Regions from separate parts of the Homo sapiens genome. Here region 1 is linked to region 2. The links come from fine-mapping of genetic effects on gene expression. A gene starts in region 2. The other region holds a variant in brackets. All regions are shown on one strand. Distances are between the middles of the regions. Region 1 holds the start of LINC02470 (long intergenic non-protein coding RNA 2470). Region 2 holds the start of CLEC12A (C-type lectin domain family 12 member A).

What was found.
Region 1: its variant is fine-mapped to the expression of CLEC12A in whole blood (INTERVAL, PIP 0.98).

What each region holds. Positions count from the first base shown.
Region 1 is chr12:9,943,258-9,948,280 of GRCh38, forward strand. LINC02470 (long intergenic non-protein coding RNA 2470) reads right to left here and starts at 238. Exons shown (of 5, transcript NR_104634.2): 1 at 1-238. CLEC12A-AS1 (CLEC12A antisense RNA 1) reads right to left here. Exons shown (of 3, transcript NR_135047.1): 3 at 4,880-5,023. The variant G/GATAT (reference allele first, on the strand shown) is at 2,050.
Region 2 is chr12:9,968,761-9,974,304 of GRCh38, forward strand. It overlaps CLEC12A (C-type lectin domain family 12 member A), which reads left to right and starts at 2,649. Exons shown (of 6, transcript NM_138337.6): 1 at 2,649-2,927. The coding sequence starts at 2,837.

The DNA.
Region 1 (5,023 bases), 26 kb before region 2:
TGCGGGTGAATTGCAAATTGCTAAGTATATTTGGTGAGTGCAAACCGCAGGAAACTGACGACCCGGTTTTTCTGAGGGGTGGTGCGGCAGCAAGACAGTAGGAGAAACAGCACAGCAACCTAGCATCCTCCACTCAGCCGCGCAGGTGGACTTGGGCCAGATGGCCCCCAGGGGCGTGTCATGTGCCTTCTCTGACGTTTGTACGAGGCAGGGGCAGCAACGGCAGCCGGGCATGCACCAACGGTGCCTCTGCCCCGGCAGCGATGACTCTACAGCCCATGATTTCCGCAGCCCACGATTGGCTGGGGCACAGCGATAAGAATTCAACCTAATGGGCACCTCACCTCCCACCTGCTTGGTACGCAGAGCAGAGAATGGGGAGTCCCATACCCTCCCTTTCCGGCTTCTTTATATTGTCTCCCTAAAAATCTCCGATTGGACACAGGTATATAACATAAATTGCCTGCACTGGAAAGTGTACACATTCTCTCACGCCACAAAGTGGATCTGCCCCCATTTTCTTGTTTTTAATAACTTTTTTCTGTTCTACATTTTTAACCACTGTGTTCTAAGTGTACCTGTGGAGTGTTTAGTAAAATGTGGGAAAACAAAGCCATTGTTTTTACATGTTTTCATAGGAACTAATGAAAGCTTGTTTCATATACAGGCAGTTTTTATTTTGCACTGTAGTGTGTGATAATAAAAATTACTGCACAAGCTGATATCACACCAAGCTATTTTAATAATAGGGAAAAGTATGATTTTTCCTTTATCCTCTTTTCCTGATTGAAAATTACTTTACTGTCACTCATAAACGTATAGGGAAATGTAAACAACAATAAAATTAATATTTTTAAAGTATGCTATAATTAAAACATTAAAAACACTGAGTTTCAAGTGTTTTGCTTAAAAGAAAATGAGTAGTGTGAATTGAGTACGTGCTGTTGTTGTTCTATCGCTTACAATATGGAGCCAGCATCTTTTAGATGCCTTCTCAAGCTTTTTTATTCCTAAATTTGGATAGACTTCCAATATACTATTCTTTGCACTTGAAATGTTAGGAAACACATTGAGAGTTCATTTGATGTGAACACTTTAGCTCGTATAACTTCCTCTGGGACCTCTTCATTCTTTTCATCACAACCACTTACCTTATTTTTGTCAATAAGTGTGCCTTTACTAAATTCCTCTGGTTGCATTATCTAGAGACTCTTCAAAAGGTGAATTATTAATAACCCTATCAACAGCTATTGCTTCTCTAACTTCATTTCTCTTCTATTTTATTTCCCCTTTCAGCGCCATCATTTTTTGCTGCACTTTGTGTCACTAACCAATTTCCTGTTTCAATTACCTTCCTCTTCTTGTCTTCCTGTTTCAAATTTCCTTTGGAATTTGTCATACAGTGACAAACCCATGTGACATTTACAAAATAATACAGAATAACTCTCCATCTTATTCTGTATTAACTGATAAAAGATGCATGGTGACCAATCAATCATTGACAGACTTGGAAAAAAGTGACATGGTTGGTCGTTAATCACAATACAAACATGTATATAGTGATTCGTGAACTGAAAAACTAGCATGGAAGTTTCTACTTTATACAATTACTTACAGTAAATATAATACAAATACAGATAAGTACGCTGAAAGAATTAAACTGTGCTGTTGGGGAGTTATTTAATTAAACTGTGAGAAGTGAAGTTTATGCATATTAGAACCACGCAAAGTAAAGTTTATACACACACCCTACTCCCCACAGACATTCTCTTTAAAATATACATATACGGCCGGGCACTGTGGCTCACGCCTGTAATCCCAGCACATTGGGAGGCTGAGGCAGGCAGAGCATCTGAAGTCAAGGAGTTTGAAACCAGTTTGGCCAACATGGTGAAACCCCGTCTCTACTAAAAATACAAAAATTAGCCTGGTGTGGTGGCAGACGCCTGTAATCCCAGCTACTCAGGAGGCTGAGGCAGGAGAATCGCTTGAACCCAGGAGGCGGAGGTTGTAGTGAGCCGGCGTCCCGCCATTGCACTCCAGCCTGGA[G/GATAT]ATATATATATATATATAAATTTTCATATATATATATAAATTTTCATATATATACACACACAAATACATATACAAACACATACATATGCATGTATAAGCATATATTGTATGTGTATAGACCTTATTCTATACATAAGAATTATTTATACTTATTTATGTAATGTATTCTTGTGACTTCAGTAATTAATTAGCACAGATTTCAAAGCTATAAATGGTAGAAATGTGGTATCTCACAGTTCTGGAGGCCAGAAGTCTGGAATAAAGAGGCTCTGAGGAAGAACCTGCTTCACACCTCTCTTCCAGCTTCTGGTGGCTGCTGGCAATCCTTAGTGATCCTTACCATGAAGTTGCACCATGCCAGTCTCTGCCTCTATCTTCTTAATGAGTGGAAAATAGTTCCTAGAATTCAACTAGAAGATTTCTCTCATTTTTCATTTACCTTGACAGACCATATATTCCTTCTTAAGATGATAACTTTCAAGAGGAATAGAAACAGTATGACTGGCTTAGATTAAATTCAACCAAATCATTAGAGATAAGATCAACCTCTCCCTCATAGAAGCAAGTATATATATGGGGGCGGGGGGATTGTTTTCTTCTTACAATACTCTTAATATTTCACCTCCTACACCAGATGTGTAGGGAGGGGGTTTCTCCTCAAATCAATAAATTATCTAGGGCAGGGGGCCCCAACCCTCGGGCCATGGGCCAGTACCGGTGCATGGCCTTTCAGGAACGGTCCATGGCCTTTCAGGAACAGTCCATGGCCTGTTAGGAATGGGGTTGCACAGCAGGAGGTGAGCAGCAGGCAAGAGAGAGCAGCTTCATCTGTATTTACAGCTGCTTCCCATCACTTGCATTACTGCCTGAGCTCCACCTCCTGTCAGATCAGCTGCTCATTAGATTCTCATAGGAGTGCAAACCCTACTGTGAACTGTGAATGCAAGGGATCTAAGTTGCATGCTCCTTAGGAGAATCTAATGCCTGATGATCTGTCACTGTCTCCCATCATCCCCAGATGAGACCGTCTAGTTGCACGAAAACAAGCTCAGCGTTCCCACTGATTCTACATTATGGTGAGTTGTGTAAGTATTTTATTATATATTACAATGTAATAATACTAGAAATAAAGTGAACAAAAAATGTAATGCACTTGAATCATCTTGAAACCATCTTCCCCCACCCCAGGGTCTGTAGAAAAATTATCTTCCCTGAAATCGGTCCCTGGTGCCCTATTGGGGCAGCAGTTGGGGACTGCTGCTCTAGGGGACACCCACTGTATGTCCTATAATTCAATTCAATTCTGACAGTATCCACCTGGAGTTAGCATCAAATTCCACAGATCAAGGGCTCACTCCATCAAGACTGCCCTCCACTTCAGATGCCAGTGTCAAGTCTGGGCCTCTGGAACTGCTGACCAACCAGCTACAGATTGAGGGTTCCCTCGACCCCTCATCACACTTGATTAATTTGATAGAGAGGCTCAGAGAACTTGGAGAAACACTCAATGTTTACCAGTTTATGATATTAATAAAGGGTACACATGAACATCCAGATAAAAAGATAGTTGGGGGAGGTCTGAGAGGGTCCAGAGTGCAGGAGCTTCTGTCCCTATAAAGTTGGGGTGCATCATCCTCGTGGCACATAAGTGTGTTTGTCCACCTGGGAGTTCTTGTAACCCTGTATTTTTGGGACTTTTATGGAGGTTTCATCATGTAGACATGATTGATTACTCTTTTTCCAGCCCCTTTCCCATCTGTGACTAATGTGGGGTAGGAGTGAAATGTCTAAGCTTCTAACCATGTCTTGGTCTTTCTGGCAACCAGCCTTCATTTAAGAGCCTACCAAGAGTCACCTCATTAGAACCAGAGATATTCCTATTGCCCAGAACATTCCAAGGGATTTAGGAGCTCTGTGTCAGATGCTCCTATCACTCTGGCAATTACAAAGGTGTTAGGCACTCTGTGTTAGGAACCAAGGTTAAAAACCAAATAATAAAAGATGTCCCTAAGCACCCCTACTGTTCAGGAAATTCCATTTTTAGAAGCTCTGCACAGGAACTAGGGACAGATATATAGATATAGATTATATAGATATAGACAATTTCATACACACTCGCTCTCCACTGACAAAATTAGGATTCTACCTGAAATATAGAAGAAGAGAATGGATTTGGATACATAACCAAAAACAGTCTTATTGCCAAAATATATATATTTTTTGAGATGGATTCTCACTCTGTTGCCTGGGCTGGAGTACAGTGGTGTGATCTCTGCTCACTGCAACCTCGGCCTCATGGATTCAAGCGATTCTCCTGCCTCAGCCTCCTGAGTAGCTGGGATAACAGGCGCCCACCACTACGCCCAGCTAATTTCTTGTGTTTTTAGTAAAGATGGGGTTTCACCATGTTGTCCAGGCTGGTCTCGAACCCCTGACCTCATGATCCACCAGCCTCAGCATCCCAAAGTGCTGGGATTACAGGTGTGAGCCACCGTGCCTGGCCACCAAAATATTTTTTTAAGAGAGTGAGTGTGTGTGTGTGTGTGTGTGTGTGTGTGTGGAGGTTGTTTACTCATTGCAAGATATAAAAAAAGGAAGTGGTACCAATACCACCCATATAGGCAAAATGGACTACATTAAAATTTAAAACTTCTGTGCATCGAAGAGCATAATCCACAGAGTGAAATGACAACCTACAAAGTGGGAGAAAATGTTTGGAAATCACATATCTCATAAGGAATTAGAATCCACAATATATCACAAATTCCTATAGGGCAGCAGAAAACAAACAAATGAAAGAACAAATAACTTGATTTAAAACTGGTCAAATGACTTGAATAGATACTTCTTCATAAAACATAAACAAATGTCCAGCAAACATATGAAAAGACATTCAATATCACTAATCATTTGAGAAATTAAAATCAAAACTATATTAAGAGATCACCTCACATCCATTAAGATGGCTCCTGTG
Region 2 (5,544 bases):
ATCTGTAATTATATTTGCAGATTGTCTCTTAGTATTCAACTAGAATGAAAATTGATATAGGTTGATTTCATATCTTGTCTATTGCAAATAGTGCTGCAATAAACATGGGAGTGCAGGTATCTATAGTATATATACACAATGGAATATTATTTGGCCATAGAAGGAAATGAAATCCTGTCATTTGCAGAAACAGGAGTGGAACTGAAGGTCATTATGTTAACTGAAATAAGCCAGGCACAGAAAGACAAATATCACATGTTTCCACTCATATGTGAGAGCTAAAAGAATGAATCTCATGGAAGCAGAGAGTAGAATTGTGGTTACCAGAGGCTTAGAAAGGGGTGGTGGGGGATAAAGATAAGTTGGTTGGGTACAAAAATAAAATTAGATAGAAGGAACAAATTCTAGTATTTGATAGTACAGTGGGAAAACTATAGTTGACAATAATTTATTGTATATTTCAAAATAGCTAAAAGAGAAGAAATGTACTATTCCCAACAGAAGGAAAAGGTAAGTGTTTGACGGAATGAATATTCTTATTACCCTGATTTGGTCATTACACATTGTATACAGGTTTCAAAATATCACATGTACCTCCAAAATACATACAACTATTTTGTATCAATAACAAAATTTTTAAAAAACTGATATAGGCTGTGAAGGGCAAACCATGTAGTCATCTCAGAGCTCAGCTTATTCTTGTGGATATAAATGTTTTAGCTGGCTCTAAACCAAGGATTTTGTATGAAGTAATACTTATTCAAATATTTTCAACAAAATAGAGTACCTTGCAAACAGGACTTTGAGATTTTTCATTTGTTTCCCTTTACAGTTCGTCATATACGCTTCATCTTCTAGTGTTGATTGATGAAACAACGTTCCACATGAGACAGCAGAGCAATAGAACACAGAACAGGACTCTGCCTGTGTGGTGGCCGGTTTCCATCCTTTCACAAACAAAGAGATATTTATAAACAAATATTTATATGCAAATATTTGATCCACCTAGGAAAAATAGAGGGCTACTCTTTCCCACCAGGAGAGGCCTTATAGCCTGTGCACATATTTGAACAAGGCAACCAGAGACTTTGATGGTCTCAACTCTACCACTCACCAACTGTGTGATGTTGGATACAAACTTAACCACTTTGCAACTCACTTCCGCATCTGTAAAATAAGGGTGATAATAATAGCACCTGGTTTAGAGAGTTGTAAAGATAAAAGCAACATTAGTAAAGTACTTAGGATGAAGTAATCATGTTTTGAATATATTTTCCTTTAAATGTGGCTGCCAATATTTTCATGGTAATATTTTCAAATGTATTCAATAGCTTTTTCTTTATCAGGAGAAAATCAGTTGTTTTAATTAAATTGACATTGAATTTTTGATACATTTAGGAGAATTTAGTTTCTTTTTATACAGTATTGACGCTTCTAATCCCACAGCATGTTTTTCTATTTTTTTCTTTTCTTCAATAGTTTTAAAATTTTTTTGTTCATTTTGGTTATGCAAATATCTAGTTAATTTCTATCTGTAATATTTTCCTATTTATTTTTAGTAGCTCTTATAAAGGGAGCATTTTGTTTTTCCTGTCTATCCTGACATAATAAAGCAATTAGTTTTTAATTGATTTTTAAAAATATTTATGCATTCTCTTTCATATGTATAATAATAATACCTAACCATTTTATGATTTACATGTGGCAATGTCAAGAAGAATTTTAAAGTAAGATTTACTAACGAATATTAGAGAACATGCTCAAAAACAGTCCTCTCCACCCCCTCACTTCCACTTGCATTCTTGATCAAGAAGTGAAATAAAAAATACTAAGACTATTGAGTCAAACTAATAAGACACAAATCTGGACTTTGGAGACTCATTTCCCTCCCACTTTTGATAGCTTAGCTGAGGAGGAGATCAAATGGTTGAGTCAGTCTGTAGAGAGATAGCAAGGCTGATTATAGTTTTCCTGGCCTGCAAAGCTGTTTCCAGAGCCCTCAGTATACAGACCTTGGCCATCAGTATGCATACTCTCTGGTGTGGTTTCTGGGCATCAGATCCCTTAATATATAGGTTGGCGCTAAAGTAATTTTGTAAACTTTTAATGGCAAAAACCACAATTACTTTTGCTTTTAATGGCAAAAACCAGAATTACTTTAGCACCAACCTATATATTGTTATTTAGAGAAACTAGGCATTCCCTACCTCTCTTAGGCAAACCTATAGCTATGTAACATGGCAACGGAATGACACTAACTGTCTCATTCTCCTTGGGAGTGCTCTCTGTATGTTCAGTCTCCCAGTGAAGAGAACCCTTCTATCAGGACCTTCATCATCATACAAAAGGAATATCTATGCCAGGCCACAGCTGCAGATTAGTGAGTGTCTGAGAACTGCATCTTTTCTGTTATTTTTCTGCTTGAAAGTTTTTCACCAATAAATCCTACACTATGTCTGCACCATGTGGTGCTAGTTATTTGTGTTCTCTTGCATGACACTGATGATGTTATCCAAACACAATTTCAAAAACTACTTTCTGTAGTTGGTAAATATATAGAAATTGAGAAAAAGGAAGAAATATGAGGAAGAAAGATGTTATCTGTTGCAACAGTTCAATGTTCTTAACTGAAGCCACAGATGAGATTTGGCTCATTTGCAGACATATGGGTGATTGGTACAGTAGGTTTATAAACAGAAGTTTAAACTTGTAAGCTTAAGCTTCCGTTTATAAACAGAAGTTTAAAATTATAGGTCCTGTTTAACATTCAGCTCTGTTAACTCACTCATCTTTTTGTGTTTTTACACTTTGTCAAGATTTCTTTACATATTCATCAATGTCTGAAGAAGTTACTTATGCAGATCTTCAATTCCAGAACTCCAGTGAGATGGAAAAAATCCCAGAAATTGGCAAATTTGGGGAAAAAGGTAAGATTTTGAGTTATGGATGTGTTGTAAGTTTGTATAATAGAAGTGGTTATAGACTTGCATCTTCAATATTAGTGATATAGTTACTATTCAACTTAAATTTTCAATTAAGTCTCTTATGTTTAAGCAAAGGAACAAAAAGTGTATGAACAAAATGATTAGAAAAAAGGGTTTTGTAAAAACACTTATCTCTGCATTGAATAATCAATCTTTTACATTTTTGAAATTTTTTATTATCACACTCAATATAATTGGGACAGAATTTTTCAAATGATTGGGTTGTATGAAGATTTTATTTCTTTATGAGATGAAGCCATGGAAAAAGAAACATGTTCAGGAAAGTCATGATTTCATATGTGTGTGTGTGTGTGTGTTTTTTTTTTTATAAGAAAATGCTTTGTGTCAGACAGAGAGACCTTTATAGGATTTCATTTGACTATCTACCAAACTAAGCATAAATCACCCTAAAATTTCTCCTACTTCTTTTGGAGATTTTTTACTAACTTACTAAAAAATAAAACATGTTAAGTTAAATGAAATGAATCATTAAGGAATAAAGGAAGAAAAGAGGTAAAGAAATATCAGAAGACATAATATATTCATAATATTCAAAACCACATTATATCAAGTAACTTTGTATTTTTCAATTCAAATTAAAATCATGAAATAAGTGGTCCATCTGTGTTGACTTTCACTTAAACAAAACTACTCTTCATCTTACTCAGAATCCTATAGTTTTCCTATTATGTATGGTTCTTGCCTTCTGGCTCCTAGCCTTTTGGGAGTGAAATCTGCCCTAGCGAATCCATAGTTTAAATCAGTGTATTTGAGTTAAAAATAACTTAAACAGTGATAGTGGAGAACACAAAGAAGGGTGATAGAAACAGAAAAATAAGGAGAGAAGAGTGCCAAAATTCTCACATATTATTTAAGTTGTTGTCCTCTCTCCTCTCCCCACACAGAATATAACATCTTTAATATTCTAGCATTGCTATAAACAGAAATTTCACTGTTACATCTTGGATCCATTTATGATGAGCATTGTAAATCTTGAGAAAGGATAGCAGATTAATTCTGTTGGCTTCTTTTTTAATACTGAAATTTTTTTTTAGAAAGAAGAAGGGTTTAAGAATTTTACAATATTTTCTGTCTTTATTTCCTTGTTTATATTTCTTCTTTTATACACTGAAAGAGAATGGGCATATCATGAGCCTAATATTACCAACAATTGCCCTTTACTTGTCCTCTCACACCCTTTCCCACCTCTTTTCCTGCCAATCCACCTTAAGTTCCCACCACAAGAATTCCCTGAATTCACGGAAATATTGAATCCATGTCTTCTTCATGTTCTTAATCTCATCTAATTTTCTCATTATCGAGCTTAGAATCTACATTATGTAATATAACATTGTATTATGTAATGTCTACTCTTAGTCTCTTACACTTCTCCTCTTCAATGTGTGTTAATTTTTCCTTAAAAACTCCAGCTCTGGCTAGGTGCAGTGGCTCATACCCATAGTCCTAGCACTTTGAGAGGCCAAGATGGGAGGATTATTTGAGGCCAGAAGTTTGAGACCAGCCTGGGGAAAGTAGAGATATGCCATGTCTATAAAAAAAAAATTTTTTTAATTAACTGGGCACCCATAGTCTCAGCTGCTTGGGAGGCTGAGGAAAGAGGATTACTTGAGTCCAGGAGTTGGAGGCTCTAGTAAGCTAAGATCAGGCGAGTGTACTCCAGTCTGGGTGACACAGCAAGATCCTGCCTCAAACAAATCAAAACAAAACAAGACAAAAACCCCAAAAACAAACAAATAAAAACAACTCCAGTTCTGGTTAAACCCGAATATCCACCCAGTCTGCCCCAGAGTTGAATATTGCTGGTGAAAAATACACAAATTTTCAACCCCAGTTACTCTCACCTTTCCTCTGGTAAGAAAAAAGCATCCATCTACACTTTTTTTTGTTGTTATTTAAATGTCTATCCTACCATGTCCTTACTGATACTCTGCTTTCCTTCCAGATAGTATTTACGATAAGTATGTACTTATGAAGGGACGGCTCCTCATTTTGCTCTGAATTTCAGTCCATGTGTCGTTTTCAAAGACAGACTTCCGTAATTTTTTCCTTTCTCTCCTGTGTCATTATTCTCTCTTCCTTCTCTGCTTTTCCTTTTTGGTGCACCAACATACTCTACTACTCACCAATATACTCTGCTACTCCTTTTATAACAAAACACAATCCTTGCTTGACCACTTAAGCCTTTCCATTATTATTTAACTTCTTTGTTTCCTTTCACAACTCAACTTTTGAAAGCATTTTCTTTGGCCACTGACTCTCAGTTCTTCACCTCTCATTCTGTTCTCAACCAACTCTATTAGGCTTCTGCCCCCTTGGTGCCATAGAGACTGAGCTTTAGGTCACTGATGTCCTGCCTGTTTCATCCCAATAGTCACATGTCTCTTCCATTACTTCACTTCCCTGCAGCATTGAAAAAGTTGAACAGTCCTCTAAATGCTTTCTTTGCACATCCCTCCTGACACATCCTCATGGCTTCTCCTGTCACCATGCCTGCCTCTCCTCATTCTTTGTTGATTCCTCCTCCTAGATGAAACTCTAC